Linked DNA regions of Homo sapiens. The protein of the gene in region 1 purifies or fractionates together with the protein of each later gene. This does not show direct contact. Each region holds a gene or a part of one and is shown on either strand. Other genes may lie near its edges. The genes, in order: STK32C and FDFT1.

Region 1 (16,497 bases):
GGAAGGAGTTTTAACTTACAAATTCAGTTTCTCTTGTAGATAAATTATATTTTTCAAATAGTTTCTCCATTTTATCTGAGTTACAAATATAATGTACTGGTACTACATTTTCACAACATGCCTTTCTTCATCTTTTAAGTATCTTTTTTTTTTTTTTTTTTGAGATGGAGTCTCACTCTGTCCCAGGCTGGAGTGCAGTGGCATGATCTTGACTCACTGCAACCTCTGCCTCCCAGCCCAGGTTCAAGTGATTCTCCTAATTTTTGTAGTTTTAGAGTCGGGGTTTCATCATGTTGGCCAAGATGGTCTCAATCTCTTGACCTTGTGATCCACCAGCCTTTGCCTCCCAAATTGCTGGGATTACAGGCATAAGCCACCGCGCCTGGACTCTTTTAAGTATCTTTAGATTCTAGAATGATAGCCTTTTCTTCATTTCTAATATTCTAATTCCTCTTTCTCCTTATTCTGTAATCCTGGGGCTTTATACATTTTAATGACTTTTTAAAGGATCACTGATTTGCTTTGCTGATTTTCCTGATCTTTTAGACAGGATCTCACTCTGTTGCCCAAGCTGGAGTGCAGTGGTACGACCATGGTTCACTGTAGCCTCAACCTCCCAGTCTCAAGGGATCCTCCCGCCTTAGCCTCCCGAGTAGCAGGGACTACAGGTGCATGCCACCATGCCTGGCTAATTTTTTTATCCTTATTTTTTGTAGAGACTGGGTCTCACTATGTTGCCTAGGCTGGTCGTAGACTTCTGGGCTCAAGCAATCCTCCCACCTCAGCCTCCTAAAGTGCTCGGGTGACAAGTATGAGTCACCGTGCCTGGCCTTATTTTTTTAACTTTTTATAGCTCATCTTTACTCTCTTCTCCCATGAACAAAACTTCCCATCTTTGCTACATTGGCTTATAGTAGTGATTTTTAAGGTATGTAATTTATTTTTTAAATTTTTTTTTACAATTTATTTTCTTTTTAATTGGCAAATAAAAATGATATATACTTATGGCATGCAACAAGATGTTTCAGAATATGTATACATTGTGGAATGGTTTTTTTAGCTTCTTAAGACAGAACTTAGAAAACTGATTTTTAACATCTCTTATTTTTCTCATACAGGCATTTAAAACTAGCTGCATCTCATACATTTTATTAGTTTGGGTTTTATAATCATTCCATTTGAATATTTTTAAATTTCCTTGTGATTCATTATTTGATAATGGATTATTGTTTAATTTCCAAATGTTGGACTCTCTTTTATAATTGATGCTTAATTTCATTGTGTTCAGATAACACATTATATATTATTTCAATCCTTTGAGATTTATTGAAAATTTTCATTTTGTTTCAGGATATGACATCCTATTTAATATTTCTTGCACACTTGAAAATAATGTGTAATATGCAGTTATTGGTTATTGTGTTCTATAGATGTCGATCAGGTCAACTTGCTTAAGAGTGTTGCCCAAACTTCTATATCCTTAGTAATTGCGTATGTGTGTACCTGTTCTAGCAATTCCTGAGATGGAAGTGTTAAGCTCTACTACTATGACTGTGCGTTTGTCTATTTTTCTCTCCGGTTGTCAAGTTTTGCTTTATATAGTTTGAAGTCTTCTTATTAGGCGCATACATATTTGGGATTGTTAGGTATTCTTTTTTTGTGCTATCTATTTATTTATTTTACTTTTAAGTTCTGGGATACATGTGTAGAATGTGCAGGTTTGTTACATAGCTATACATGTGCCATGCTGGTTTGCTGCACCTATCAACCCATCATCTAGGTTTTAAGCCCCACATGCATTAGGTATTTGTCCTAATGCTGTCCCTCCCCTTGCCCCCAAACCCCCAGCAGGCCTTAGTGTGTGATGTTCCCCTCCCTGTGTCCATGTGTTCTCATTGTTCAGCTTCCACTTATGAATGAGAACATGTGGTGTTTGGTTTTCTGTTCCTGTGTTAGTTTGCTGAGAATGATGGATTCCAGCTTCATCCATGTCCCTGCAAAGGACATGAACTTATTCTTTTTTTTTTGAGATGGAATTTCGCTCTTGTTGCCCAGGCTGGAATGCAATGGTGCAATCTCTGCTCACCGCAACTTCCGCCTCTTAGGTTCGAATGATTCTCCTGTCTCAGCCTCCCAAGTAGCTGGGATTACAGACATGCGCCACCACGCCTGGCTAATTTTGGATTTTTAGTAGAGATGGGGTTTCTCCGTGTTGGTCAGGCTGGTCTTGAACTCCTGAACTCAGGATCTGCCTGCCTCGGCCTCCCAAAGTGCTGGGATTACAGGCATGAGCCACTGCGCCTGGCCAAACTCAATCTTTTTTATGGCTGCATGTTAGGTATTCTTAAATAATTGATCCTTTTATCATTTGAAATGTTCCTTTTTATCTCTAATAATATTCTTTGTCTTGAAGTCTACGTTATCTGATATAAATATAGCTACATCACCTTTCTTATGATTATTATTTGCATGGTATATCTTTTTTCCATCTTTTTACTTTTAAATTCTTTTTTAGTGTTTAGGTTATAATTCATCTTTATATTTAAGATGCAGCTTTTAGAATCAGCATATACATATTAGGGTCTTGCATTTGTATCCAGTCTGATGGTCTCTATCTTCTAATTGAAGTGCGTAGTCCATTTACGTTTACTGTAATGATGAACTCTACCACTCTGCTCTTTATTTTCCTTGTGTCCCATGGGTTGTTTTCATCTTCTCCTGGTGATTTTAGTTACATTGTATCTCCTCTGTTGGCTCGTTAGCTGGGCCACTTTTTAAAGGCATTGCTGTGGATCACGATAGCCACCCTCAGTCTGTCACAGTCAAACCTGAGCTGTAAAACACCACTTCCAGGGAATGTCAGAAAAGCTCAGCAGTGTCATCATCTCTTTGCCCTTTGTAAGTTGTGCAGTTTTACATCTGCACATGCTATCAGGCAGAGTGTTATTAGTTCTGCTATGAGCGATGAATTGTCTTTCAACATGAAATTGATTTGCCCCTCCTTTATATAGATGCAGAAGGGCAGAGGGGCAGAGAAGGGCGGGGCCCAGGTAAGGTGGTGCATCGCGGTGCTGGCCGAGGGCTTATGGCTGGCTGAGTTCTGACAGAGGCTGCTGCTCCATGGATGCCCTGCTTGGCCAGGTAGGATGCCTTCACATGGGCAGGAGAGAGACTCTGCCTGCGAACTCTTGTGGGAAAGAGGAAGGAGAGGTGGCTTATCCTCCCAGCAGTGGTTTTCCATTGGCCAAAGTTCACTGCATGGGTCTTAAACAACCCCCATTTCAGCAGCCTTTCAGGAAGCCAGAGCTAGCACCTTCCACGGAGCTCATGAGGCCTCTTGACCTGGTCCTTGTCATCTCCTTAGCCTTCGTCTCTTGCCACTCCCTGCCTCAATCTCTCCAGCTTAACCAGCCTGGCCTTTCATTCATTCCTTTCTTCTAAAGCATCACATTCTTGCTCACCTCTTGGACGCTACCCATGTTCTGCCCGGAGGGCTGCTCTCCTGCTCCCCTTTGGCTGACGTCTGCCCATCTGTCAGGTGTCAGCTCTGCTGTGGGCTGCCTCGAGGGGGTGTCCCTCATGCTCTGTCAGGACTGGCATCCACTCCTGCTCTCGCAGCCCTCTGTGCATCCCCTCTTTGCCTGCTATCCACTGGGTTCCCGTCTCCCTCGCTGAGAGGGGTGCACGCTCCATCTGACCATTCACTATGTCAGCAGTGTCTGCTGCAGTGCCTAGCATGGAGCAGGTGCTTGGCAAATGTCTGTCGTGTGGCCCGTGTGGAAGGGTCCTTTTTAGCCTTAGAGGCTGCCTCTGTGTGGATGGTAAACAGCCACGGCGTTTAATGTTGCTCATCTCAAGGCCAGTGCTTGTTAGCTGCTGTAAGGGTAGAGTGTGTGACTTAACCGTCACTCGGCATGGCCTTAGGTCCTGTTTATAATTTGGTATCTTATTGCCACAAAGAGCCATTCCGTTTGTCTTATGGTCTCCAGCTTAACATTAAAGCTGGTTGGTTGTTGTGTCTAAACCGTAAAAGGGAGGGGGTATCAGGAGACCCGTCTGACCTCCCATCCCACCATCATAGCCAGGAACTCAGGTTTTTAATTTAATTTTATTTTATTTTTTGAGACAGAGTCTCGCTCTGTCGCCCAGGCTGGAGTGCAGTGGCGTGATCTCGGCTCACAGCAATCTCCACCTCACAGGTTCGGGTGATTCTCATGCCTCAGCTTCCTGAGTAGCTGGTATTACAGGCGTGTGCCACCACGCCTGGCTAAGTTTTGTATTTTTAGTAGAGGTAGAGTTTTGCCATGTTGGCCAGGCTGGTCTCGAACTCCTGACCTCAAGTGAGCCGCCCACCTCGGCCTCCCAAAGTGTTGGGACTACAGGCATGAGCCACTGCATCTGGCCTGGAACTCAGTTTTAAGGTTTTTCTGGAGTTTCCTTGGCCAAGAGCGGGTCTGTCCCATCGGTTGGGGGCTTATGGTTTTAATTTTAGTTTACGTAGTGCAGCATTGAGCCACCAAGAATTCTTGCCAGGCCTTGAAACCTCATGGAACTTGCCCTGCTGGATTTGAACTTACTTGGGACCGATGACTCTTTTTATTCCTTCTTATTTCTCCCTTTTGAAATGGGAATGTATATCTTATGCCTATCTCATCACTGTACCTTGGAAGCATATTTTCCAGTTTCACAGTTACACAGATAAAGGGGAATTTTGCCCAGAATGGATTGAACTGAGGTCTCACCCATGCCTGATTTAGATAATGAGTCTTGGACATCATTTCTGATTGTCTAAATCAGGCATGATTTAGACAATGAGTCTTGGAGACTTTCGAGCTGAAAATATTTAGACGAGAGGCTGGGTGCAGTGGCTCATACCTGTAATCCCAGCACTTTAGGAGGCTGAGTGGGGTGGATTTCTTGAGCCCCAAAGTTTGAGATCAGCCTAGGCCACAGTGTGAAATCCTTGTCTCTACCAAAAGCACAAAAAATCAGCCAGGGGTGGGGTCATGGATCTATGGTCCGAGCTACTCAGGAGCCTGAGATGGGAGGATCGCTTGAGCCTGGGAGGTCGAGGCTGCAGTGAGCCATGATAGCACCACTGCACTCCAGTCTGGGCAACACAGTGAGACTCTGTCTCAAAAAAAATCTTGAGCTGGGATTTTGGACTTAGAGTTGCTGCTGTAATGGTTGGGACTTTGGGGCTGTAGGGTGTGGTGAATCCATGCTGCCCATGGATGTGGTGGGTTAAATGGTGGCCTTTTGCCACCAAAGGACATGTCCGTGCCGGCCCTGTGAATGTGACCTTATCTGGAAAGAGGATCTTTGCAGATGTAACTAAGTTAAGGATCTCAAGATGATATCATCCTGGAGTAGGGTGGGCCCTAAGTCCAATGACAAGTGTCCTTATAGAGGAAGAAAAGGGCGGAGTAGACAGATGAAAAGGCAACGTGATGATGGTGGCAGCAGGGGCTGGGGTTGTGGGTCCTTAAGCAGAGCTGAGCGGTGAACTCATGCTCGGCCCCGGCGCACTGCAGTGGGGGCGAGGGCTCCTTCCTAGTGGCTGCAGCCCGTCCTGCATGTTCTCCGTCGCTGTGCTCCTTCCTGAGTCACCAGGTGGCCACATGACCTTTAAAATCAATACTGTCACCATAGCAACCAAGTGTCCCCACACGTGGGCTCCAAGGCCCTGGCCTTCCAAGAATCCTCAGTCCCAGGCCCCGCCAGGGCTGAATCTGAGGGCGCCACGGCCATCTGTCTTCCATTTCCCAGGAGGGAGGCTGTCCGTGGATTCTCCACATAGGTGGACACCAGCATCGGAGTCCCATGGGAGCCCATTTCCTGTTTTGGGGGTCAGTTCTGAGATGTGTTTTCCAGCAGGAAACAGCACACACGAATCGTGTGATCTGAGGAGATTTAATAAAAGGACTCTTAACAAAGGCGTGGGCAGAGCATGTGTTAATTTCATAATGATGACAGAAGATGAAGCACACATCTCGGTGTGACTGAGCTGTGTGCCAATTATGTGGCAACGGAGGACCCATGTCCAAGGCATGTCCCTCAGGAGGCGTGGCTTTATGGACGAATTATGAACAAATGCACATGAAGCCTGGTGTCAGGGACTGCACCTTGTCCCCCAAACCACCCCCAGCCCTTCAGCACATGCCACGGCCACTCACTTGCTGTCCTGCAGCATGGACCCTCCTGTCCTCCCGCACAAGCCGGTTTCTACCTTAGGGCCAGCTCCTGCTGTTGGAACCCGGACACCTGGCCTCCCTTGGGCTACTCGTTCATGCTCCGGCCTCAGCATCAAGGTCACCTGCTCAGAGACTCATGCTGGACTACCCAAGCTAAAGTGGTCCCACGATCATGCACGTGCTGCCCAGCCATGTGCCTTCCTGTGTGCTCCTGCGTGCTAGACGTCAGTGCACTGAATGCATTTATCTGTCACATTGTCACTTGGTCTCCTGTCATTGGAAGGGGCAGACACCATCGCTGCCCTAATGAAGTTGACGTTCCCGGGCAGCATGGGCACACAGGGGAACTCAGGAATTCTCTACTGGCCTCACTGCCCCTTCCCATCCACAGCTGACTCTGTCCCAGCCTCAGTCCCTCCCAGCATCCCCCTAGAACTTCAGAGCTACCTCCCATGAGGCACCAGGGGTTGGCATCCTCTTGGGGACAGCAGTTCCTGACCCCTCCTGTCTCATGCCTACACTGTGCACCTCTTAACGCTCAGTCTTGTGTTTGCCTGGACCCTGAGCCGTGGCTGGACAGTACAAGAGTTGCACCTGGACAGTACAAGAGTTGTGCCCTGAGCCCACAGGCCCCTCCAGGGCTGATCTGCACTGGCCAAATCTTAGGACCCGGCATTCTTTTGGGAGCTGCTGTTTCCCTACAGATCCTTCCTGTTTCCTGACTGAGAGGCAGGTGCCTGGCTTGGTGTTTGAGGCTCACAGCAAGGGTGAGGTTGGAGGGTCTCCTAGTTAAGTGTGCAGATGTCCCCATGAACCCCTCTGCCCCCCTGCACTCTTGTCTTCTGCAGGACTTGGTATCCCTAGGTCAAGAGCCCCTTTGGACCCTCAGACCAGAGGACTGTCCATCCCCAACTGCCCGGGCCGGGGAGGCGTCCTGGGCTCTGGCTGTATTCACATTCTCCCGCCTTTTGGGGTCCTGGTTACCTGCAGGTCCTCAGCCTCTCCAATCTTCAGAGTCAGCTTTCTACCTGCTGTCTGAAGTCTATTAACATGTCTTCCCTTCTCCTGTTCCCTCTTAGGTGGTGGTGGGGACGTTATATCTTTTATTCCTTTTCTGCCACTTTTAGGGGTCAGAGGGAGAGGAGGAGAGGCGATGATGTAAGTTCAGAGGCTGCGTGTTTTGGGAGGAGCCCTGGGGAGTCTGATGTGTGCACCGGGTACGCAGGGTTCCAGGCACTGCCCTGCCTTGGTACCTCCCCTTCCAAACGCTCCTTCACCACTCCTGCTGGGATGGGCACCGAGGGCTTCCTCTGAGGCAGGTGCTGAACCCACTGCCTTCTGCGTGCCTGCTGGAGAATGGCAACTTTGAGGGAGAGCAGGGAACAGAGCTTCGCAGCTGCAAGGGCTGAAAACTCGGCTCTGTGCACTGGAAGTTAGAGACCGATGCGTTTGTGCTAGCCAGGCAGGGAGAGCTGCGGTGGCTGGTTGGTCAGGTAACCTAGGTTATGCTGCCATAAAAATACCCTCTAAATCTCAGTAGTGAAATGCATGCCATGTGTCCTAAGCGGGTGCATGTCCAGGTGGGTGCATGTCCTAGGCGGGTGCATGTCCAGGCGGGTGCATGTCCAGGCGGGTGCATGTCCTAGGTAGATGGGCATGGTTCCATTCCTTATAGTCCCCAAGGGATGGGGGCTCCTGTTGGCCCAGAAGCCACACAGACTTCCCGTGCTCACATTTCATGCATCAGGCGGTTAGGGCGGGCGGCCACACTGAATGTCAAAGGCCGTGGGGAGGCAGGGCTCACAGTGGCTGAATGACAGGGTAGACAGTTGTGTGCGGTGGGAGGGACGGGAGCGGGAGACACTGGCCTTGGAGCCATGTTGGGGATCCGCTCATCGTCCGGGCGGGCAGCAGGAAATCCCATCTAGGATTTCACCGAGGAGGAAGAGACCCCGTCTTTGTGTCCTGGTTACAGGGCAGAACTTAAGGAGGTAAAGGCTTCCTAAAGTCAAACAGCCCGGTAGCAAAAACTGATTCTTCAGTGACAAGCGCCAGGGGCAGGCGGCGAGGCTCCATGCAGAGCCGCGCCTTCTCCAGGGCACTCCAAGGCGCCCAGCACTTTCCGCGCAAGGTCGCGCCTGGCCCTGCGCAGGGGCAGAGGTGCCCGGAGGTCAAGCCGCGCCCCAGGCCTCCGAAATACGCCGAGTGCCGAGGCCCCTGTCGCATCTGGACAAGGGGACCCTGGGCGACTCGGGCACGCGGTCTCAGGCCGGACGGGGGTCGCGAGGATGGCACGGGGGTGCCCGAGAGCGCGGGCGCACGTGCTCAGGGCTTAGCGCCCACCCCAGGCGCCCGCGTGTGCGCGCGCGCAGCCAGGCCCGCCCTGCCCCACCCCACCCTCTGGCGCAGCGCTTGGACTCAGCCTGCCGCCTCCTGACCGTGAGCCGGGCTCTGCCCGGCAGATTCCCGCCGCCCGCATCCCGGGCCTGCAGCCCGGCCTCACCCTGCGCAAAGCAGAAGGCTGGAGTTTAGGGCTCCCCGCACTGGGCGGCGGAAGCCCGCGCGCCGGCTGTTTTCACGAAGAAGGCAGGGGAGGGAGGCCCCCGGAGACCGCGAGAAGGTCCCGCCGCCGTGCCGGGCACAGCAGTCCCCGTGCCAGGGACGCCGACCTCCGGGGCCCCAGGATACCCGTGGGGACGCTCCCTGCCTCCCTCGCTCTCGTACCCGCCGTCTAGTCTGAGCCGTGGTCCCCGTGTCCCGGCGAACCACAGCCCCCATCCCTAGACTGGTGGCGGCCACCCACTCCCTAGCGACACTCCAGGCACTAGCCCCGCCCCTGCCCCGCCCCCGGCTCGGCCCCGCCCCTACCCTTCCCGAAGCTCCGCACCTGCCACGCCCCGGCGCTCAGCTCCGCCTCGACCCCTTCCAGGAGCTCCGCCCCGCCCCCGCCCCTTCCAGAAGCCCCGCCCCTGCCCCGCCCCCAGCGCTCGCAATCTACGGGGCGGGTTCCACCGCCCAGAAGAGCGCACGGCGGGCGCTGCCGGCCCCGAGCGCTCCCGCTACCACTGCCGCTCCCGGCCCTGCCGGCCGGCCATGCCCCGAGTTCCGGCTGCCGCGCGCACCCAGACCCGGCGATGAGGAGTGGCGCCGAGCGCAGGGGCAGCAGCGCCGCGGCGTCCCCGGGCTCGCCGCCCCCCGGCCGCGCGCGCCCCGCCGGCTCCGACGCGCCCTCGGCCCTGCCGCCGCCCGCTGCTGGCCAGCCCCGGGCCCGGGACTCGGGCGATGTCCGCTCGCAGCCGCGCCCCCTGTTTCAGTGGAGCAAGTGGAAGAAGAGGATGGGCTCGTCCATGTCGGCGGCCACCGCGCGGAGGCCGGTGTTTGACGACAAGGAGGACGGTGAGTGCGGGCACGGGGACGACGTGGGGGCCGCGCGCTATTGCAGGGGCGGGCGCGGCTGGGCGGCTTTTTCCCGCAGGGGTTCCCCCGGTGTCCGGGACGGCTTCCCGGGGCGCCCCGGCTTCCGGAGAAGCTCGCGCCGGGTGGCTGCGGCCCCACGCGAGTTCTGGGCGCCCGCCCGCGTCCTCCGTTTCTAGTGGCGGCGCCGCAGGAGGAGCAGGCTGGGCCCGGGCCCTCGGGGCGAGGGTCCCCCGCGGCTGTGGCGTCTCCGGGCTTGCGCGCGCCTCCGCCCACCGCCCGTGGCAGCCCTGCTTTCCGCTTTCCGTGATCCGCTCGGGCCCACGTGCGGGCTCGTTTGTACTTTGCAGTTAGAGAGGCGCTCACCTGTGCCGCCCGAGTGCGAGTGAGGCTCCTGCCCCACAGGTGGCGGGGCCCGGCCGCTCAGAGGCTCAGTCTCCTTGGTGACCGCGCGGTGTCCATCCTCTGCTCACCCATGTGCGCTGGAGGCAGGGCCAGGCCGTTGTGCAAAGACCTGCCCTGCCAGGAACGAGTGCGCTGCTGAGTCCTGTAGATAAAGCCGCCAACCCCGGGGACTGGTGTCTCCTGAGTGACCGTGCAGCCGTGGGCGCCATAGAAAGCAGAGAAGGCAGGTGAGGTGACATGGGACAGGCCTGCAGGGACACCTCCCGGGGTGCCAGGGGGCCCCGGGGACCCCCGAATTATCACCTGCAGGGAGATGTGGTGCCGCGTCTGCCTGTGGGCACTGTAATACAGTCACATGCAGACATACAGCTCTTTTCTACAGGTAACATGCAAATCATTTAAAATCGTACATTGATGACACATTTCATGTTTTTTGACATTTTCTTAAAATACTTGAAATGTGCATTTTTCATTTATAGATAGCGTGCAGAGGTATGATGGATCCTTCAAAATTTTAGAGCCCAGCGCTCAGGAGCCAGGCTATTTACTTGCGATAAATAATTTAAGCATTATGGGAAATTACAGTAATACGACCTCAGGCCGGCGTTGGTGAGTGTGGGGCCGTGCACCGCCGTTCCTCCGGGAGACGGCACCGGGGATTCATGGTGTGCTGCCTAGAAGGAGGGCTGAAGGCCCAGCCACACCAGGCCCCACACGCTCCAGGGTGGCCCGTCACTGTGTCCTGAACTTCGGGACAGCAGAACTCACGATGGTGAATGTTTGAGAAATGTTTTTGTTTTTAACATAAATATTCAAAGTAAAGAAAGCCCAGAGTGAACTAGGAGCTGATCAGGAGGCAGATTTGCCTCTCGTTTCTGGCTGCGGGTTGAGAGAACGTCTGAGAAACGCATCTGGTTTAGCACTTGCTGGTGTCAGCCAAGAGCTGGCTGCTCTTCTGGGTCTCGGCACCGTGCTCTCCGGGGGTGGGAGTGGAGACAGTGGTGTGGCACTGGGCTGCCTTCAGCTTTGTAGGGTAGACTTCCCTGTGTGTTCACAGTGTGTTATGTCACAGAATTCAAGGATCACTAGAAAGGCAAAAAGAGCAAGCACAGAGTCTGTCTGTGGGGCTCACGGTCTGACTTGGGAATTCTTTCACATCCCCAGCATCACCGTATTTGCCTGTAGTAGGACGGCAGAGATTCGGCTGACGGTGTCCCACGGATGCTGCTGGCTCCGTATGGCTTGGTATGCAGCCACATCCCCAAACTGAGCACCCGCCGGGACTCAGCTGGGCTTTGTGTGGTGAAATCAGGAGGGCAAGACTAGGCCCTGGCCCGAATAGCAGAGGACATCTCTGGGCGGTGACCGCTTCCCTCCGCTTCTTCCTGTCACTGGCAGGGCACAGACAACTTGGGAGTCATAGCACAGGGTTTGCAGAAGAATGTTCTGCACCTCTGAGTGTGGATGCCGGGGACTCGTGTTGGTGGAAGGGATTCAGTTTGGAAGGAGAAAGGAGAGTCTTTTAGGAAGGGACTGTTGCCCCTGAGTCCCACCCCTTTCAGGTTGGTGCAGTCATTTGCCTGGTACTTTCGTGGCCCCGTGGCAGCACTGGCTTAAGGAGGCCCTGGTGCTGTGTTGGTGTCTCGAGTTTACTGAATCTGCACGGTTGCTATGGCAATGCTAGACCTTCCGATGAATTTTTTAGATTAAAACACCTAATTAATATATCAAATTTAGTATGCAGAGAAAAGGAAAAAAGAAATTAAGAGTGCTGTTTAACAAAGTGCCAGGTAAATTTCAACTGATAGGCATAGTTGCGACATATAAGACTAAATGTCCTCTGTTCCTTTTAATCCTTGTGGACTCCAGAACCATTTTCCTAATTTGGCAGATATTTGGTGCATGTACAGAATTCTCTGCACGTCTTTGTCATGCCAGAACTGAGGGTCTCCAGTTTTCCTTCCCCTCAGCCCCTCACATGCTCCCATTCTATCCCTTCTCTGACTTCGGTGAAAAATTCATTTTTGGGGTTGAACTTGGTTAGGGGGTCTTTCTGCTGCTGCTCTGCACCAGAGCTGCATGGCGTTGGGCGAGCCCCTTCATTCCTCTCTGTCTTGGTGTCCTGGTGATACCAAGTGAACCTGAGAGGAGGCTCCGGTACCTTCCCGCTAAGCAGCTCTGCAACCTGGGGGGCGCTCGCCCGTCTCGGGGTCACAGCATTGAGTCTCCAGCCTGACGTGGCATTAGCCCGCCAGCAGGAAGTAGCTCCTCCCTGAGGGGCTTTGCCTTCATCTGGGGAAGGCTGGAGTGGACAGGCCCTTGCAGGCTGTGGACGGCCCGCCCTGGGCGCCGGGCCGGGCAGGCAGTGAGGCAGGACCAGGGGCCACCAGACTCCTCAAGTCATCTCTTAAAATTAGAAACACCTTTGTTTTTTCCTAATTATGAAAGCATTAAAATGTATGCATTTAAAAACATTCTATACTTTATGCCACGGTATCTGTAACTTCAGCATTGGGATCACGGTGTCACCTCCCAGCCTTTTTCTGGAAATACAGTCCCAGGTACAGCCGTGGAGAAACACTCTCTCTTTGTTAGCAGAAGTGGGATCCTGCTCTGCATGCCAATTTGCCGTAAGGTGCTTGTTGATTCAGCGATATGTTGCCAGCCTCTTCCAGACCTGAGGCATCATTTGTTGGCTGAATTTACAACAGTTCTCAGCCCCAGGCTGTGGACCCGAGTCATTCACTGGGCACTCTTAAAAAATGCAGATGCTCAAGCCCCACACCCGTGAACTGTGGGTGAACTGGGGGGGTTTGGTGGGTTGGGGGTGGGGCTCAGGGGCTCAGGCTTTTTTTTTAAGCCCCTCTTGAGTTTTACCAGCAGTCGAGGCTGAGATTCCCGACTCTGCAGTGCTCCCCTGAGCAGCTGTGACTTTCTCTGCTTACTTAGTTTCCTGTCACAGGACTGTGAGGTGTTTCTGTTTTATAAATATCATAAACGACGTATTGATGAACATCGTTGCAGATCTTTGTGCACTTGGCATTGTTTCCCTAGGATACATTTTTAGGAACGACATTGCTCAGGCAAAGGGGTCCGTGTGAAATACCTTAACACGTGTGGCCGCTCAATTGGTCCCTCTCTGAGCATTGTTTATGGGCCATGCTGTCGTGGGGTAACCGGGCAGAGGGGAAGCAGAGAGACTGACAAGACAGGGAGGCAGGAGCGAGTGCAGTGGGTGGCGGGAGGCACCTGCAGGGGAGAGAACCAGACCACCTGCTGCCAGCGGAGCTGGCGGGAAGGGAAAACCCATTTTCACTTGCTCCAGGAGCGGGAGGGTTTGATCGCCTTTTCCCCTGAATCCTCTCCAGCTTTGGGTATCAGCAATGTTTCTATTCTTTGCCAGTCTAAGAGATTAAAAGATGGCACTCATGCTTTGAGTTTCTTTGATTATCAATGAGGTTCATCATCTTTTTACCTTAAATGTTTAGAGCATTCAGCTCTAAACACATTTCACGTGTTTCCACACTTTTTGAATTGCCTGCCCGCGCTTGTTAGCGGCATGTGTCCTGTGGGATGGCAGCCGCAGGTTCCTCTCGCCCTTCCTGGTACACAGGCTGAGCCTTCAGCAGCTTCCCTCCCACGTTCCTCATTTATCTTTTAATGTTGCTACTTAGCTTTTTTCTCTATGGATGTGTTTAATTTGTGTGTGGTCAGATTCATCATCTGCCTTTGTGGCTGCGTCCGGCCTTGCCTTTATGTGACAGCAGTCCTTCCCAGCACAGTTAATAATAATTTAATTCATAAACCTGCATCTGTACTTTCTTCTAGCGCTTCTGTGGTTTCACTTTTTGCGTTGGAAATTGCAGCCCGTAGGGAGTATCGCTTGACGGAGAGTGAGAAAGCTCTCTCCTTCTCGCATTAGTTCTCCTCTTTCCCAGGATGAGTGCAGTTAGGATGTTTCCCCCTGTAGGGATCTGAGGCCTCCCACGCAGCCCCTCACCGCAGAGCCCCAGGCAGGCTGCGCCCTTGCTGCTCCCGGCCTGTGGGACTGGAGTGGGACCGTTTCCACGCTGGCTGCTGCTGATGTGAAGGAACGCTCCACTTTTACAAGGTTCACCTTGTGTGTGGCTGAGACTTCGCTGCCTCTTGCACATGACTGCACTTGGCTAAATTCTCGTTAGTCTATAGCTTTGAAGTTCATTTTGTTGGCTTTCTGGGTGGTCTGTCACGTTGCCTTGGAGTGACTCTAGTGGCCCCGTGATGGTTTTGCCTCGTTCTTTCCTTATGGTGTTGCCGGAGCTCATGGAGCAGAGAAGAGAGAAGGTCCTGAGCCCAGGGGCTGCCGAGGGCTGGGGACAGCTCCTCCCGCACGGTTGGTATGGACGGGTTGTCCTTCCAGAGCGTCAGCTTAGCCCTAGTGTGGGAAAACTTTCCAGTCAGGTGTGGACTCGCATTTTGGAGGGTGCTCTTTCCTTGCCTCCTGACCCTGTGAGGCAAGGGGTGGGGGCTCTCTGTGTGGCCCAGACACCCATCCCCCACAGTGCAGGCGCTTGGTGGTCAGAAGCCTGGTGGCTGCAGAGGCCCCTGGTCTGGGGTGTGGACTGGGGAGGAGGCCTATGGTCCTGGCCTCCTGCCGGGCACCCCGTCACATGTTTGCTCCTGGCTTCCCCGGTTCTGGGCCCAGCACCGGGTGTCCTGGGGGCCCTTGGGGCAGCTGTGCAGCTTGATGCCTCTTCTCCTTCCCAGCTGTGAGGCTGCTCTAGAATGGACTCGGGACCTACTGTCATACTTTTTATGTAACAAATGTCAGCTCTGCGTGTCTATCCATCTGGTTGTGCATTTTACAAGGCTAAAAATAAGCCGGCTTTTCTTTTAGAACTTGAACCACCCAGCTTTCCAGTGGAGAAGTAATGCGAGGATGCCTTGGAGGTGATTTTGTTGAGGGATTGATTCTCTGCGGGTGAAGCCCAGAGACACTCCAAGGTGATCTGAGGGAGGCAAAGTCACAGACAAGTGTTTCTTCCACACGGAGCCGGGACCACTCAGAGCAGCTTTCCTGCCTGTCCCGGACCCCCAGTCACCCAGGACTTGTGAAAATGCGGCTGACCCAGCCGGCCTGGGGTGGGGCCAGGAGCCCACATTTCCAGCCGGCCCCAGGCGGTGCCAGCGCTGCTGGCCCGCGGACATACTTTGAGTGTGAGAGTTTAGTGAGTATATAGCCGGTGCATCATGGTGAGTGAGGGCAGGAAACCCACGGGGTGCTGGTCCCTTGGCCCGGGCTCCCGATGGGCCTGGAGGGGGATCTCTAACCCTCTGTACCACGGGGTTGCCAGTCATCAGAGGGCGCCTCGCGGTGTGGACTTTTAATTTGCTTTTCCTCCTTCTGTTCCTCTCAGTCCTCTTGAAGGCCCAGCCTTCTCCACACGTGGCCGACGTGCAGCTCCTGGTTCACATCTTGCATTTTCACCCGGCCCAGTAGCCCGCACTGTTTCCTTTACACTGGGATGCGGCATCTGTCTTCTGACCCGGATCTGAGGCAGGGTAGTCTGGTGTGTCCACTGGCGGGTTCCTGGGGAGTGTGGCCCCGTGCTTTTGGGCGGAGCATCCTGTGTCCCCGAGCCCACTGCGGGGCCTTGTCTTCCCCGGGGACCCCCACACCTAACGGGCGCTCCCAGCTGTGTCAGGCAGGACCCTCCTAGGGAGGAACCCGGGTTCCAGGCCAGGCCCTGCAGGACCACTCAGAGCAGCTTCCCAGACTTCCTCTTGAGCCCCTCGGCTCTTACATCAAGTAAGGGCCTGTGCCCTGTGGCCCTGACCCTGTCTCTTCCTGGTTGGGAAGCTCGGAGCTGCATCTGGGTTCACATTAGTGGAGGACCAGGCCTTCTACTTGGTGTCGGGAAGCTCGGAGCTGAATCTGGGTTCACGTTAGTGGGGGACCAGGCCTTCTACTTGGTGTTGGGAAGCTCAGAGCTGATTCTGGGCTCATATTAATGGAGGACCAGGCCTTCTACTGGGCGTTAGGAAGCTTGGAGTTGAATCGGACCTCGTGTTAGTGGACGACCAGGCCTTCTACTTGGTGTTGGGAAGCTCAGAGCTGAATCTGGGCTCACGTTAGTGGACGACCAGGCCTTCTACTTGGTGTCATTTCCCTTCCCAGCCAGATTTTCCTCCTCACCTAAAAAGCTCCGTTGAGCTGTGTGTTTCTCTGAACCTCCCTCTCTGCTGTCTGTGTATAACTGGAGATAAAAATAAAGCTCTGTGAACCACCATTTCTCCTGCTGCTGCTGACTAATACTTGGGCACGTGGCGAGACCTTGGTCTTCTCAGCCACCCTCCTGAGTGGGATGCCGCCTTGTTCGGCTCTGGCTGTCAATGGGGGCGAGTGGCCACCCGGGGTGGTATCTCTGTGCCTGGAGCGCTTCCTTACAGGTCTCCTGCCTGCCCTGGGCGTGGGCAGAGACGCAGGCCCCTCCCCTCTCCCAGT
Region 2 (16,498 bases), on another chromosome or scaffold:
GTAACAACCCATGTGCACTAGCTTAACAAAAAGTTCTTAGGAATGGCTTTGTTCGGCCTGGCGCAGTGGCTCATGCCTGTAATCCCAACAGTTTGAGAGGCCAAGGTGGGCGGATCACCTGAGGCCAGGAGTTCGAGACCAGCCTGGCCAACATCGTGAAACCCCGTGTTTACTAAAAAATACAAAAATTAGCCGGGCGTGGTGGCAAGGGCTTGTAATCCCAGCTACCTGGGAGGCTGAGGCAGGAGAATCGCTTGAACCCAGGAAGCAGAGATTGCGGTGAGCTCAGATTGTGCCACTGCACTCCAGCCTGGGCGACAGAGTGAGACTCCCTCTCAAAAGAAGAGGAAGGGCTTGGTTCTTCTGCTCAGCCCTGAATCAGTTACTGTTGCTACACAGCTGAGTTCTCTGGCCTCGCCTGGATTACGTCTACACAGTACACACAGAATGGATTTCCCCCAAAGAAAGAATTCTGCAGCAGGAAGGGGAAAGGGATGGCAGGTAGACAAAAACTCCAGGTGTCTGTAATAAGGGACAGGGTCGATCTTTAATTAAAACATGGACAGGGAACAGAAAGCTTTTGATACTGATTTTGTTCAGAAGGAAAGTAGAAAATTTTATGACTGTTCCCTGAATTTATTCCAGCATTTACCTTTTGCTTTCCATAAAAGTGTTTCCTGCAGCCAAGTACTTTAAAGTTTTAAAAAGACGGGTGAGGCTAAGTGTGGTGTCTCATACTTATAATCCCAGTGCTGAGGCCAGGAGTTCAAGACCAGCCTGAGCAACACAGCAAGATACCATCTCTATAAAAAATTGTTAGAAAATGATTCTGCTGAAAGAGCAAAAATAAAAATTAAAGAAAGTAGAAAAAATAAAACTAAATTTAAAAGATTAACTGGGCATGTTGGCATGCACCTGTATTCCTAGGTATTCGGGAGGCTAAGGCACAAGGATCCCTTGAGCGCAGGAGCTCAAGGTTGGATTGAGTTGTAATCACACCACTGCACTCCAGCCTCGGTGGCAGAATGAAACTGTCTCAAGAAAAAAAAAAAGTGACAGAGGGAAACAATATTTGCAATTCATAGAGCAGATACAGGGTTCATATTCCTAATATTAAAAAAAACTTCTAAAAGTTAAGAAAAAGGCCAACTGCCCCACAGAAAAATGGGCAAGGAGATAAGAACAAGATAGTTCACAGGAAGAGACACACAGATGATTATTAAAAATCTGAAAAGATGCTGAGTCTTACTCCTAAGAAAAATTCACATTTAAACTACTCTGGGGGCTGGGCAAGGTGGCTCACGCCTGTAATCTCAACACTGGGAGACCAAGGTAGGAAGATCACTGAAGCCAGGATATCGAGACCAGCCTGGACAACGTAGTGAGACCTTATCTCTTAAAACAAAACAAAACAAAACAAAACAAAAAAAACAGTAAAAATTGGCCGGGCACAGTGACTCCTGCCTATAATCCCAGCACTTTGGGAAGCCCAGGTGAGTGGATCACTTGAGGTCAGGTGTTTGAGAACAGCCTGGCCAACATGGCAAAACTCCGTCTCTACTAAAATTACAAAAATTAGCCAAGTGTGGTGGCATACGCTGGTAGGGCCAGCTACTTGGGAGGCTGATGTGAGACTCCATTTAAAAAAAAAAAATCAAAAATTAGCTGGGTATAGTGGCACACCCCTATAGTTCTCGCTCCTTGGGAGGTTGAGGCAGGAGGATTGCCTGAGCCCAGGAGTTCAAGGCTGCAGTGAACCATGATCGCACCACTGCATTCTAGCAGCCTGGGAGACAGAGCAAAACCCTTGTCTCAAAACAAACAAACAACAACAAAAAAACAAAAAACACTTCCCTCAGCTCAGACATGGCCTTTTAAGTTTCCTAGGTGACTCGTGTGCAGCCAGGGTTGAGAAACCACTCTTGTCTTACCCCTCTTTTGCAGACACAGGGCTCAGAGAAGGGAAGGGGATTGTCTGGGGATGTATAGTGAGGCAGTGGCTGCCTTGGAAGTGGAGTCTCAGTCTCCCGGCTCCTAGGCCAGCCCCTGACCACTGTTCCATTGTCTCCCAGACAGAACATCAGCCACGGGCATGTGATGCATGAGCGTGAGCCACACCATCTTGCACACACAGGAGCAGAGCCCTGCTCTTCTCATTCACTTACTTTATCTGTAAAATAGCATCATTTCTACCACACGGTGGTGGTGTGAATAAAATGAGATGAACTTCTAGCATAGAGTGCTTAGTAAAGGTTCTGGACATTTCGTAGTAGTTGAATCATGCCAAATGTGGTCCTAGGTGATTGGCTTCTTTTGCTAGCATGTTTTCAGGGCTCCTCCATGCTGGGGCATTGCATCACTGCTTTATTCCTTTTTATCGCCTAGTATTATTCCACTGTGTGGATAGACCACATTTATCCATTCATCAGTTGAAGGATATTTGGGTTCTTCCCATTTTTTTTGGCTATGGTGAATAGTACTGTGTACATTTGCATATAAGTTTTTGTGTAGATGTGTGTTTTCCTTTTTCTTGGGTCTATGCTGAGAAGTGGAATTGCTGGTTCATACAGCAGCTCGAACCTTGTGAGGAGCTGCCAGACGCTTTTCCAAGGTCGCTCCACCATTTTACATTCCCGTCAGCAGTGTGAGAGTCCCAGTTTCACCAGCACTTGTTGTTATCTCTTTTTAACTGTATGTATATATACTTAACATTTTATTTATAATAAATGTACATAATAGAGAATTTGCCATTTTAACTATTTTTAAGTCTATTATTCAGTGGCATTAAGTACATTAATGATGTTATATAACCATCAACACTATGTTTCCAGAACTTTCGCTAGCTTCAGAGAATCCTCTAAATAATATCATTAAAAATCATCAAGCCGAATCCCACTGTTAGAATTAAAGGTTTTATTTCACTTTCAAGTTATCAGGATCCAGGGAGGTGTAATACACTTAGAGGATAGACTCAGCTCATTTCCCAGCTATGCCTTTCAGCAGCTTTCTTACCAGAGTAGGAATATAATGTTAGTCATTATTTAGAGGCCTGGCCATCTTGAGAAGGTTTACTGTTTAGTCTGCAGTACAATTATAACTGTTTTTGTATATTGGGTTATTTTTTTCAGAAGTAGGCCAGTAGCTCTAACAGGAGCCTCTTTAGCCTGAATTCGTCCAAGTAGTGCAGTGTTGCACTAGTTGTCCCTCGGGACATGCTCCCCAATACGTAACTCACTTCCAGGTTGCAACTGGACACTTACTGGTAGTCAGAAATAGCTATTGCATGGAGCTTAAAATGAACTTGATCTTCGTGAAAGATGAGTCTGCAGCTAAGAGACTTTACTGTATATCATAGTGTTTTTTTTTGTTTTGTTTTGTTTTTGTTTTTGTGACGGAGTCTCACTCTTTCACCCAGGCTGGAGTGCAATGGCGAGATCTTGACTCACTGCAACCTCCGCCCCCTAGGTTCAAGCAATTCTTCTGTCTCACCCTCCTGAGTAGCTGGGATTACAGGCGCCTGCCACCGTACCCGGCTAGTTTTTGTATTTTTAGTAGACACAGGGTTTCACCACCTTGGCCAGGCTGGTCTTGAACTCCTGACCTCGTGATCCACCCTCCTCGGCCTCCCAAAGTGCTGGGATTACAGGCGTGAGCCACGGCGCCCAGCCTGTATCATAGTTCTTATGCACAAAGACCCTTTAATATTGTTTGTAAATTCTCCCCTATGCACACGCTGACCTGTTCCTTAATCTTCTTATCTGTCTAGGTTTGGAGCAGGTATGTTAAGAAGTTAGGGGATTTTGCTAAGCCGGAGAATATTGACTTGGCCGTGCAGTGCCTGAATGAACTTATAACCAATGCACTGCACCACATCCCAGATGTCATCACCTACCTTTCGAGACTCAGAAACCAGAGTGTGTTTAACTTCTGTGCTATTCCACAGGTAGGGAAGGGGGCTCCTCTGGGTGGATACGGGGCTAAAGGGAGTGGGGTAGGAGTAAGGGTGGATTTTGCTGTGCTATATTCAAGGATATGATTCCTTAAAAAGACGATGACTCCAGTTTATTACGCTGGGAGTTTCATAGCACCCGCCTTTGCTTCCAGCCACCAAACTCAGCTCAGCCTTGAGGTTAAGCCTGCTCCTTTTCAGAACCTTCTTTCTGGATTTACTATTTTCTACAGCTATCCTAAACTAGTTAGGTTCTTTTCCTCACAGTTAAGTCAAGGTCTTTGGCTTAGATTTATGGGGAGTGCTGGGTAAAACCTGGGTGAAGCTGTTATCATTAAAAAGTCTTCATTAAGCACCTAATTACTGCTGTCCTTTTCCTAGACCCGGCATAAAAAGAACCTGGTCCGGTAGACCTAGCCTCTCAGTATGCTAGGAACTTACACTTTTTAGTTGCCTTTACCAAGTATTGCAGATACTACTGCAAATAAGTGAAGAAAGTAACAGCATTTAACTGATTTGGGAACTTGGTTTGATCTTGTTCTAATGACCAACTTCGAATGGTGGTTGAAAGTAAAATCTGTATCGCCGTCTTATGTTTCCATTTACCTAGAAATACTTTACCTTTGAGCACAGGAAATTAATCCCCTTCTGGTTGTTCTCCCCCTGGCATTGGTTTTAAATATATAATGATTATGTTTGTTGTAGGAAAAATAGAAAAACAACTACAATAGAAAATTCTTCCCATATATTATTTTGAAATACATATTTCCGATCCGATAATCCATTGCTCTAGCATGGAAAATGTTGGATTTACTTGTGTTTGCTTTTTCCAAATAAAATGGAACTTTTGTGGCTACATTATAGAATTGTTTTAGACTGCTTAATTCTGTGTGTTGTTGAGAAAGGGAGGAGTGGGGAAGGTAAAAATCTTGACATACTTTCTTCGTGGGTATTTTTTCTTGAGCGATTCCATCTTAGTTGATTAGCAGTTAGCAATTGCCCATTCAACAGAAGGTTTTCTTACCTTTTTGTGATAATGATAGCTAACGACATCATTTCTTCTTTTTTCCCTCTCTTCTTGTTGTCTCTAGGTGATGGCCATTGCCACTTTGGCTGCCTGTTATAATAACCAGCAGGTGTTCAAAGGGGCAGTGAAGATTCGGAAAGGGCAAGCAGTGACCCTGATGATGGATGCCACCAATATGCCAGCTGTCAAAGCCATCATATATCAGTATATGGAAGAGGTGGGTTTTTATTTAACTACTTGGATAATTTGTAGCTACTTTTATGATTTAGTAATGTCACTGTTTAACCAGGTTTGGATATTAGATGATCCTAACAATTCACTATCCTGTGGCCTAAAGAGACAGGAATTGATATCCTTTATAAGGAAAAAAGTCTATTCACAGGAGCCGAGCAGATTGCTCACTGCTGTGTAGTACCCTGGTGAGAGGAGATAAATGGAGCAAGGCTGTAGGTTGGAGCCCCTCAGTAGAATCATAGATTTTGAGCTGCAAGATGATGCAGGAGGCCAACCAAGCTTCTTGTTGCTGGTGAGGAATGTGAGGTTGAAGCTTGTCTGTGCTGATGCAGTGCGTGATTGAGTGGATCTCTGGCTCCCGTCCATGTGTCCTGACACCCAGTCTGGTACTTTCATTATGCCACAGGCCTCAATTGAAAAATCACAGTAGGGAATTTAGGCCAAGGAAAGCCATCAAGTTGCAATTATTTCCTAAATTTTCTTTGGAAAATTTCATTTCAAATACCAAAACCATCCTATAAAAAGAAAACTTACCTTCTTAGGTCAAATCTCTAATATTTGACTAGGTTCAAAAAGTTTATTTCTGGCCAGGCACAGTAGCTTACTCCTGAAATCCCAGCACTTTGGGAGACCAAGGTGGGAGGATCACTTGAGGCCAGGAATTCAAGACCAGCCCGGGCGACATAGCAAGACCCCATTTCTACAAAAAATTTAAAAATTGTCATGGTGGTGCACGCCTGTGGTCCCAGCTACTCAGGAGGCTGAGGCAGGTGGATCACATGAGCCTGAGAGGTCGAGGCTACAGTAAGCTGTGTGATTTCATCATTGCACTCTAGCCTGGGTGATAGAGTGAGACTTTGTCTCAAAAAAAAAAAAAAAAAAAAAAAAAGTCTTAGAGACCAGAAGTCTTTGTAATCTCTAATAATCTCTAGGCCCTAGAGCAGTGGTTTGTAAATGGAGGTGATTTGCTCCCCTCCCCCCAGAGGACATTGGACAATGTCTGGAGACATTTTTGATTGTCCTAACCGGCAGGAATCGGGTGCTACTGGCATCTGGTGAGTAGAGGCCCAGGATGATGCTGTGATCCTCAGGTGTGATCCTGTTGAGAATGAAACACTGTAGACTTTATGAAAACATACAAGACCCTCATCATTTTTCCTTTGCCTGAGCTCCCTCCCCAGAGGTTACCTCTGTTCATGGTTTTGTGCATCCGTCTAGTCCCCCTGTTACGCGTTTACAGGAATATGGTTTGCAACAGTGTTTTCATCTAAATAGAATTATACAAAATAGCGATTTCTGATTTCTCTTGCATATTGCACATTCTTCTTATACTTCCTCCCTACCTTTATCTGACACAGAAATGCTGTATGTCCAGAACTTCTATCAGAGGCACCTATGGAAGTCTAAGGGAAGACCACATCGCTTTTAAAAACCCTAAAATTTTGTAGTCACTAGATGAAAATATTCAGCCAGTGACCCAAAAAATTGCTACCAATGAGACTCTCCATTTTGCCATGTAGCCAGAACTTACTTTGATCTATGTGCCTGGGGTAGTGACCAAGTAGGTGGGTAGGAGTAATCTCAGGGAAACTTGAGGCCCCAGCCTCATGGCTAGGGTCATAATTTGAACCCAGGTCTGTCTGACATCAGAATCCATGATGTTAACCCCAATTCTAAGGGGTTCAACTACCCTTTCTAAATGGAATCCTGCTATATTAAGCACTATTTATTCATTTTATATAAACTAGAAACATTTTATGTAGTAAGTAGTTGAGAGTGTTTTGGTTTTGCAGTTTGATCACTAGTTTTAGAAACCAGTTTTTAAACACTTTGTGGCCAATTCCATTACTATATTAAAATTCAGATTTATTTGGTTTTTCCTTAACTATTGGGATTAAATCCTGGTTGTAATTCATAGTTTGAGGGCGAGGGTGGGCAGTCTACAGTTGGCTGAGCCCTGTTTTTGTGAATAAATGTTATCAGAACACAGCCACACCCATTTGCTTCTTTGTCTTCTGTGGCTGCTTTTGCAATGTGACGGCCGAGTTGAGGAGCTGCAACAGGCGATGACTTGTAAAGCTGAAAATATTTTTTGGCCCTTGAATAAGAGGTTTGCTGACTTCTGACTTAGGGTATCAGTTGTTCTGTTATCCCAGTAAAACTCAAGGCATTAGGGGAGAAATGTTAATATTAATACTTAAGTTGATTTGATTTAGGGAAATCTTTGAAGATTTCTAAGTCTTAAGCAGTAGAACCTGTTAATGGTTTTAGTTTCAGCAGTAAGGACATTTTACAAGTAAAGTTTTAAATGAAAACATTTTGTATGAAGCCACAAGTCGTCTGGCCTCTTGCTGGTGTCCAGATATTAACACTGATCCTATTTCTCCTTGCTGACCAAGTCTGTCCTTTGTAGTAAGAAAGGAAGAAACGTTGACTCTGTCCGATCTCTGGACTTAGTGTTGTAGCGAGCATGCACCTGGAAGGGACTTGCCAGAGGACCTCCTCATGCTTCTCCAGTGCTTAGTGGGGGCTTGGAGTGCAGCCCCAGGTCTTCACGAGCAGTTGGCCACACTGCAGGGCCCTCACCCCACTCTGGAGCAGCCTCTGCTTCAAACCAGCCTGGATGCTTGTCAGCTGGGGAGAAGATCAACCTGCTATTTTGGGATAGAAATAAATGCTCAGCCAAACGGCCAGAAACCCCCATTCCCCTCTCTGCCAAAGTGAATTCCTTGGCAGGGAGAATCTTGTTCGTGTCTCTGCACACTTCCTGTGCCCTCCTGTGGTTAAGTCAGAGAATCATCCGGCTCTTTGAGCCCCAGGTGCCTAGCTGCTCAAGGATGGTCCCCAGCCAGCAGCTGCCAGGAATCACCTGGGAGCCCATTAAGACATCCAGCCCCCACCCAAACGTATCGAATCAGAATCTGCCTTTTTTTCCCAAATGATGTTTTTGCTTTAATGGAAGTTTAGATGTTCATAGACAAGAGTTTTAAATGATGATCAAGCTGATTCCATATTCGCAGTTGTAAGTAGAACTGCTGAGACGTGGAAGTACCACATGGACTCACAGAGGAGCTGCTGTATGTAGCACAGCATTGCACAAGAGCTTATTTCAGTCTAGTAAACATTTATAGGAGCCTGTGTCATTTAATCATCAAGCCTCGCACTGTGGCTCACACCTGTAATCCCAAAACTTTGGGAGGCTGAGGCAGGCAGATCACTTGAGGTAAGGAGTTCGAGACCAGCCTGGCCAATATGGCAAAACCCTGTCTCTACTAAAAATACAACATTTAGCCAGGTGTGGTGGTGCACACTTGTCATCCCAGCTATTCCGGAGCCTGAGACATGAGCATCGCTTGAACTCGGGAGGTGGAGGTTGTAGTGAGCTGAGATGGCACCACTGCACTCCAGCCTGGGCAACAGGGTGAAGGCCCTTTCTCAAACCCCTCAAGTATTTGGCTTCAACTTTATGCCGGGCATGTAGATGAAAAGTCGGCTATGACCTGTCCTTGACAAGCAGATGTAACTCCTTGATTGAGGCTAGTAGGTTTTTAAGACCTGAATAATTGAGTTTGCAGAAACCTACTGTGTGCCTTCAGGTAAATGGAGAGTGGGGTTTGGTCTAGCAACGAAGCATCTAGAAGGTCCCTTTGGCCTTACCGGCTCTGTTTTAGGTAAGTCCACGTCTGAGTACCAGTGACTGCAGCTCTTCCAGTTGTGCTGTCATGCTTATATGTTAGAAATGATCATCAAAGGACTCAAAAGTTTTGCCACTAATTGTATTACCGGGGACTGTCACAACCAAGATTTCTCTTAATTTATTCACCTTACTTATCTCCTGGAAGGGCATATTGAAGTGCTCTTGGAGTTCTCTAAAAGGGTTTTTGTTGGTTGTGTATATTCACTTGGGTGCCAGCGATTGATTCCAAATAAGTAAATCTTTTTTCCCAAAAGGATGTAAGATGGCTTATGGTTATAAGTACAACAGGCTAACAAAGTACAAGTAGATGAGAAAGTAAAATGAAGAAATAAAGTCATAGGAGCCACAGAATTAACCCAGGAATGAATAAGTGTGTAGTTTGGTGCTGATGTTATCATCCTTTATTTGTACATTGCTTGTACAGTTGCTCTGAGAAGGTAAGTCTTAAATTTTCAAAAGTGAAATGTCACCGAGCATGGTGGCTGATGCCTCTAATCTCAGCACTTTGGGAGGCTGAGGCAGGCGGATCACTTGAGGTCAGGAGTGCGAAACCAGCCTGACTTATGTGATGAAACCCTGTCTCTACTAAAAAAAAAAAAAAAAAAAAAAAATACAAAAGTTAGTTGGGCATGGTGGCAGGTGCCTGTAATCCCACCTACTTGGGAGGCTGAGGCAGGAGAATCGCATGAACCTGGGAAGTGGAGGCTGCAGTGAGCCAAGATTGCACCACTGCACTCTAGCCTGGGTGACAGAGCGAGACACCATCTTAAAAAAAAAAAAAAATCTACAATATACCAAAACCATTACTTACCTGAGAAACTATTCTCAGGGTCATTGTAGTGAATGCCTATTTTATGGCTTTTGATGGCATCAGGGCACTCAGGTCATTTACAAGAGTAGTGTGTGAGACCCTGTGTGTCACTGCCACTCATCTTGGCCTTCGGCCACTGCTGTAGCAACCAGTTTCCAAGTAGGGCTGGACCTTGCCTTCTGCTCCAGAGACCTCTCGCTTCCTGCCCTTGGGCTTCTGACGAGCTGCAGGAACTGCCTGGCACGTGGGTCCCCACAACCCAGAGGAGGTGAGGGCCACCTCTCTGCTCCTCAGGGCCACCTTTCATAAGGCTCCTTGAAGGTCCCTCAAGATCAAGCCAACTCAACACATCCTTGATAGGCCTTCCTGCCTTCTGTTTCACTTCTCCACTCGTTTCCAAATAAATGGCTGCATGCAAGCTTTTGCCTCAGGTTCTGCTTTTAGGAGGAAGGCTAAGACAAGCAGTAAAGCAACATGGGCAGGCAGAAGGATGACTTCTAATAGAATTATCTCATCACTATATATTTTACTTTATGGATGCTTGTATTGAAAAGTCTTGGCTGGGTGGAGTGGCTCACGCCTGTAATCCCAGCCCTTTGGGAGGCCGAGGTGGGTGGATCACTTGAGGTCTGGAGTTTGAGACCAGCCTGACCAACACTGGTAAAACCTTGTCTCTATTAAAAATGCAAAAATTAGCCAGGGATGCACGCTTGCTGTGTGCCAGCACAGGGCTAGGCTGGAGATAAAAAGGTGAGTAAGTAGGTGCGGTGTAGTCAGGGTGAAAACTACAGATGGTCCATTTCCACGTAAGTGGAAAGGTAAAGGTATGTACAATAGGGTGGCTCCTGGCTGAACCTGGAGCTGCAGACAGGTTTTCTAGAAGGCATAATCCTGAAGTTGAGACTTGGGGGCCTAGGTAGGAGCCAGTTGAAGGGACGTGGGAGGCGCATTCCAGAGAGAAGGAGTGGTATGAGACTGGAACAGAGGTGTGCAGCAGCATCGCATGGGCGAAACAACAGTAGACAGTTGTTCTTTTGTTTTTGTTTGTTTTTTGAGACAGGGTCTTGTTCTGTCATCCAGGCTGGAGTGCAGTGGCATGATCTCGGATCACTGCAACCTCCACCTCCCAGGCTCAAGTGATCTTCCCACCCCAGTCCCCAAGTAGCTGGGGGACCACAGGTGCATGCCACGATGCCCGGCTAATTTTTGTACATTTTGTAGAAACAGGGTTTTACTGTGTTGTCCAGGCTGGTCTTAAACGCCTGAGCTTAAGCAGTCTACGTGCCTCAGCCTCCTGAAGTGCTGGGATTCCAAACATGAGCCACTGTGCCTGGCCCGGCAACTGTTACTAGACTGTAGAGAGGGAGGTGGGCAAGGGCTGGTGACACTAGACAGGTGCAGTAGGTCTGGACCATGGGTGGCCTTGCGCTACACATTACAGAGCTCAGGCTTTTTTTCTCCAGGTGAGAGGGCTGGTGCCACTGAGGCATCAAGCAGAGGTTTGAGATCTCCTTGGTGACAGTGTAGAGCAGACAGGTAGATTTGGGAATTTAAGCTTAGACTCACGTTGGAGACTGAGATAGCTCATCTGAGAGGCACTCAGGGCCTAATCTCAGGCAGTAATTTTAGGGATGTAGGGGAAGAGATGGATTCTGCACATACTTGGGAGGCTTGTGGAGGAGTGGGGAGGGAGGCACAGGGAGGACTCCAGGGTGGTTCATACGGCTCCCTGCTTCTGTTCCTGTCCCCCTTTGTCAAGCTGTGGTCTGTACTGCGTGTTCCATCTTGTTTCTAAGCTGCTTTTGCCCAGTCTTTCCAGCATTTCCCTTTCGTCATGTTAGTCTGTGCCTGTCTACGTGAACTATGGTGACGTTTATTGGGCCTGGCACTGTGAGGTGCTGGGGATGTGAAGATCATTGTGGCTCAGCCGCTGCTCTCGAGGGCCTCTGGGTGCAGTATGCACACCTGTGCCTCCTGTTTGCTCAGGAAGACAGGCTTTGAGATGAGCTGGGGCTGACATCCCCACCTTATCATTGGGATGGCTTTGGGTAAGTTATGTTCATGTTCTCTGAGCCTCCCTTTCCTCATTGGTAAAATGGGTATAAAATACCTGCCAGTGGAGGGTTGTTGTAAGTAGCCATGGAAAATGTAAAGCACATAGCACTTATCATTTTTTCCTGTGTCTTTAACAGATTTATCATAGAATCCCCGACTCAGACCCATCTTCTAGCAAAACAAGGCAGATCATCTCCACCATCCGGACGCAGAATCTTCCCAACTGTCAGCTGATTTCCCGAAGCCACTACTCCCCCATCTACCTGTCGTTTGTCATGCTTTTGGCTGCCCTGAGCTGGCAGTACCTGACCACTCTCTCCCAGGTAACAGAAGACTATGTTCAGACTGGAGAACACTGATCCCAAATTTGTCCATAGCTGAAGTCCACCATAAAGTGGATTTACTTTTTTTCTTTAAGGATGGATGTTGTGTTCTCTTTATTTTTTTCCTACTACTTTAATCCCTAAAAGAACGCTGTGTGGCTGGGACCTTTAGGAAAGTGAAATGCAGGTGAGAAGAACCTAAACATGAAAGGAAAGGGTGCCTCATCCCAGCAACCTGTCCTTGTGGGTGATGATCACTGTGCTGCTTGTGGCTCATGGCAGAGCATTCAGTGCCACGGTTTAGGTGAAGTCGCTGCATATGTGACTGTCATGAGATCCTACTTAGTATGATCCTGGCTAGAATGATAATTAAAAGTATTTAATTTGAAGCACCATTTGAATGTTCGTAATAGTAGAAAATGATGTGAATTTTCTTTCTGTTCGGCTCCTATTTTTCTCATCATTTTGTTTTCTTTAATTGGGTTGAATGGAGTAGATAGAAATATTTATGGTTTAGGTAACAGTTAGATGTTTCCTAAGAATGCAAACTGCCTTTTCCACACAAAGGCTGGGAATAAAATTCTGGGTATTCTCGTATTCTCATTTAAAGGAGTTTAGCTTTCAGAGAGAAACAGCAGGATTGCTTTTGACCTTTTAGAAGATTGGTCTCCAGTAAAGGTGGACATTTTTGAGATTTTTATAATAAAGAATTTAATTGCTCTGCATTTGTCAAGTACAGTTCGCTTGAAAGCCTGCCTGACTGTGGAAAAGATGGAGCTCAAGAATGGAGTTGATGGCCCAGCGTGGTGGCTCATGCCTGTAATCCCAGCACTTTGGGAGGCTGAGGCGGTCGGATCACGACATTAGGGGATCGAGACCATCCTGGCTAACACGGTGAAACCCCGTCTCTACTAAAAAAAAAAAAAATTAGCCAGGCGTGGTGGCGGGTGCCTGTAGTTCCAGCTACTCGGGAGGCTGAGGCAGGAGAATGGCTTAAACCCGGGAGGCGGAGCTTGCAGTGAGCTCAGATCGCGCCACTGCACTCCAGTCTGGGCAACAGAGCGAGACTCCATCTCAAAAAAAGGAAAAAATTGTAAAAAAAAAAAAAAAAAAAAAAAAAAAAAAAAAAAAAAAATTTCCCCCAGCAGTTTTTGTTTTCTAAAGTTATCAGTTTATATATTCAGGTCTTAAGAAAGGCAAAAGCTGTCTTCAGGTGATTGGCTTGGGGGCAGAACAGTACTTCTGCTCGGGGTTTCACCTTCCTCTCTACTCCAGTGCAGCAGAGCTTGTGATGTGCTCTCACTGAGGTGCTCAGTGCAGCAAGGAGGCCTGTGGACCCTCGAGTTGAGAATTGGTGTACTAGGGCATTCGGTACTTTCTAGAAGCCATTAATGCTACAGGTACTCATAAAGTCTACTCTTCTGCAGCCCATCGTGGATGGTGGCTTAATCATTGAATTTGAGTTGTTTCGAGCTGCAGCGTTGGATTTGCATTGTTGTAAGCACACTTTCTTGCTGTGACCACTGACACCAAAATTAGTTTGGGCCCAGGGAGACTTCAGTTAATTGGTTCATTTGAGGCTTAGCCCTGGACTCATTTGTCACCAGCCAAGATAACTTGCCACATGGAATACAGCCAGACCAGGGGTCCCCGACCCCCAGGCCTAGGACCGGCACTAAACCTTCTGTTACGTGGCCTGTTAGGAACCGGGCATCACAGCAGGAGGTGAGCGGCGGGTGAGTGAACATTATCACGTGAGCTCCACTCGGCGTTAGATTCTCATAGGTGCGATTGCGCGTGTGAGGGATCTGGGTTGCATGCTCCTTGTGAGAATCTAGTCCCTGATGATCTGAGGTGGCAGTTTCATCCCAAAACCATTTTCCTCCCTCTGTCCTTGGGAAAATTGTCTTTATGAAACCGGTCCCTGGTGCCAAAAAGCTTGGGGACCACTGAGCTAGACTCGACAGTATTTTCCAAGGAATTAAAGCCTCAAAACTTGGTTTGAGATTTCAGGGTAGGTTGTTAAAAATCTGTGTGTTGAAATCTAAGATTTAATTCTGCCAAAGTTCACGTTAAGACAGAACAACCTGCTGGAAAGAGATTTGGTCTGAGTGGGGCCTGTGGAAATCTTCTTTCCTGACTTGGTCATTACCTGTGGGACCACTTCCTGAGCTGTGTGGTTTGGGTGATCTCAGATTTTTTCTATCTATAAAGCTATGTGCTTTTTTCTACTCACTGAGTTGTAGAAAGGTATCCGCTCTCATTCCATTCTGAAGCTCTTTGAAAGCTTGTTTTCCTTCTAAGTATCTTCTCTACTAAGGTTGCCAGATATAATAGGGGATGCTGGGCATGGCGGCTCACACCTGTGGTCTCAGCTACTCGGAGGGTGTTGGGGCTGAGGCAGGAGGATCCCTTGAGCTCAAGAGGTTGAGGCAGAGGTTGTGGTGAGCCAAGATCACGCCATTGCACTCCAGCCTGGGCGACAGAGTGAGACTCTGTCTCAAAAAACAAACAAACTTGCATAACTGAAAATTCAGAAGTAGTTGGCCATCTTGTATTTCTGTTTGGTAACTCTGGCAACACTACCCTCTACTCCCCACTTCTAATATAATTTTATAGCATCTCTGGCATACAGTCTATTTGGATCCGACCTAATGGTGCAATATTTTGTTTTCCTCAGAGGAGCCTCTGACCCATGTGAATCTAGGACCATAAACAATTAGAATGCTTGGGAGCAAGAGCTTTATATCTGCATATGGGAACTTCCGGATCCCTGTGGGCAAGTGCAGGGAGGGCCCCTTCTTCCATCTACTGAGCCATTTCCCAGGGGCTCGGGTGTGTATAGGAGGAAGAGGGCGAGTCAGGCATGTTAACAAACATTCTAGGTTATTCTTGGCAGTTTTGGAAACAGTTCTAAGGCTGTGGTTCTCAGACTTTATATCAGAATTGCCTGATTGCTGGGAACAGAGACTGATACAGTAGGTCTGATGGGGTGCCCAAGAGGTTGCATTCCTAAATTCTCATGCAGTTTTCTAATCAGGGAGCAGCTGGAAAGGTATTGTGAGCTTGAATGTACCTGGGAAACTACCTGGGGTCTTGGGAGATGCAAATGCTGGTTCAGAGGTCTGGCCCTCTGACACTCTGATGAGCATTTCTAACAGGCTCTCAGGTGACGGCCGTGCTCCTGGTCTGTGGACCACTTCAGTATGGCTGAAGCACAATAAAAGAGGGCAAATTACTGCTTTCTTTAAAAAGAGTGGCAGCCGGGCACAGTGGCTCACGCCTATAATCCTAGCACTTTGGGAGGCCAAGGCAGGTGGATCACTTGAAGTCAGGAGTTCCAGACCAGCCTGGCCAACATGGTGAAACTCTATCTCTACTAAAAATATAAACATTAGGCCAGGTGTGGTGGCAGGTGCCTGTAATCCCAGCTACTCGGGAGGCTGAGGCAGGAGAATCCCTTGAACCCAGGAGGCGGAGGCTGCAGTGAGCCAAGATCATGCCACTGCACTCCAGCCTGGGTGACAGAGAGAGACTCCCATCTCAAAATTTTTTTTTTTAAATGCAGAGGTTGGACTGCCTACCTATACTCTAATTTCTATTCTGGAGTGATTCTCTGGAGAGGCTAGGTAAAGACTGAAAAGGCATTGTTACGTCCACCTGTCATCTCACTTGGACAAGAATCCAGGAGAAACTATTGAACTGAGGTGACAAAGTTATGATCAATGTGGTGATCTGAGGTGTATTAAAACACTGAGCTCTTTCCCAGTCACAAACACTGCAAGGCAGGTGTTTCTAACAAAGCCTTAAGCTGATGTCGACATGCCCCACAATTCCTTGTCACTCACCAGCACATCCCCGCTGGCTCCATGCTAGAAGCAGGCAAGGAGCTGCAGGTGCGTATACGATGGAGGTGAGGGAGACAGTGCGCATGGAATGAATCAACTCAGTTTGGGAGCAGGGAGAACTTTATTGAGGTTATGAATATATTCTACTTGAAACTGGAAGGATAAGTGGTTATGAATTTGTGGCTTATGGTAACCTTTGTTAAGCATCTTTCTTTTTCTTTTTTTTTTTGGTGAGACACAGATTCACTCTTGTCCCCCAGGCTGGAGTGCAATGGCGTGATCTCGGCTCACTGCATCCTCTGCCTCCCAGGTTCAAGCGATTCTCGTACCTCAGCCTCCCGAGTAGCTGGGATTACAGGCATGTGCCAGCATGCTTGGCTAATTTTGTATTTTTAGTAGAGATGGGGTTTCACCGTGTTGCCAAGGCTGATCTCAAAACTCCTGACCTCAGGTGATCTGCCCGCCTCAGCCTCCCAAAGTGCTGGGATTACAGGCTTGAGCCACTGCGCCCGGCCTTTTTTTTTTTTTTTTTTTTTTTAATTATTGAGACGGAG

Evidence for each region.
Region 2: the proteins of STK32C (region 1) and FDFT1 purify together in Homo sapiens (affinity purification with mass spectrometry; 3 studies listed by BioGRID and IntAct, with this or other methods). This does not show direct contact.

The regions. Positions count from the first base shown.
Region 1 is NC_000010.11:132,300,665-132,317,161, reverse strand, and holds the start of STK32C (serine/threonine-protein kinase 32C), read left to right. Parts: upstream 1-9,211; 5' UTR 9,212-9,328; coding exon 9,329-9,590; intron 9,591-9,939; exon of another isoform or gene 9,940-10,240; intron 10,241-16,497.
Region 2 is NC_000008.11:11,826,478-11,842,975, forward strand, and holds the end of FDFT1 (squalene synthase), read left to right. Parts: intron 1-3,766; coding exon 3,767-3,943; intron 3,944-5,040; coding exon 5,041-5,193; intron 5,194-11,910; coding exon 11,911-12,132; 3' UTR 12,133-12,821; downstream 12,822-16,498. UniProt on the Homo sapiens protein: Catalyzes the condensation of 2 farnesyl pyrophosphate (FPP) moieties to form squalene. Proceeds in two distinct steps.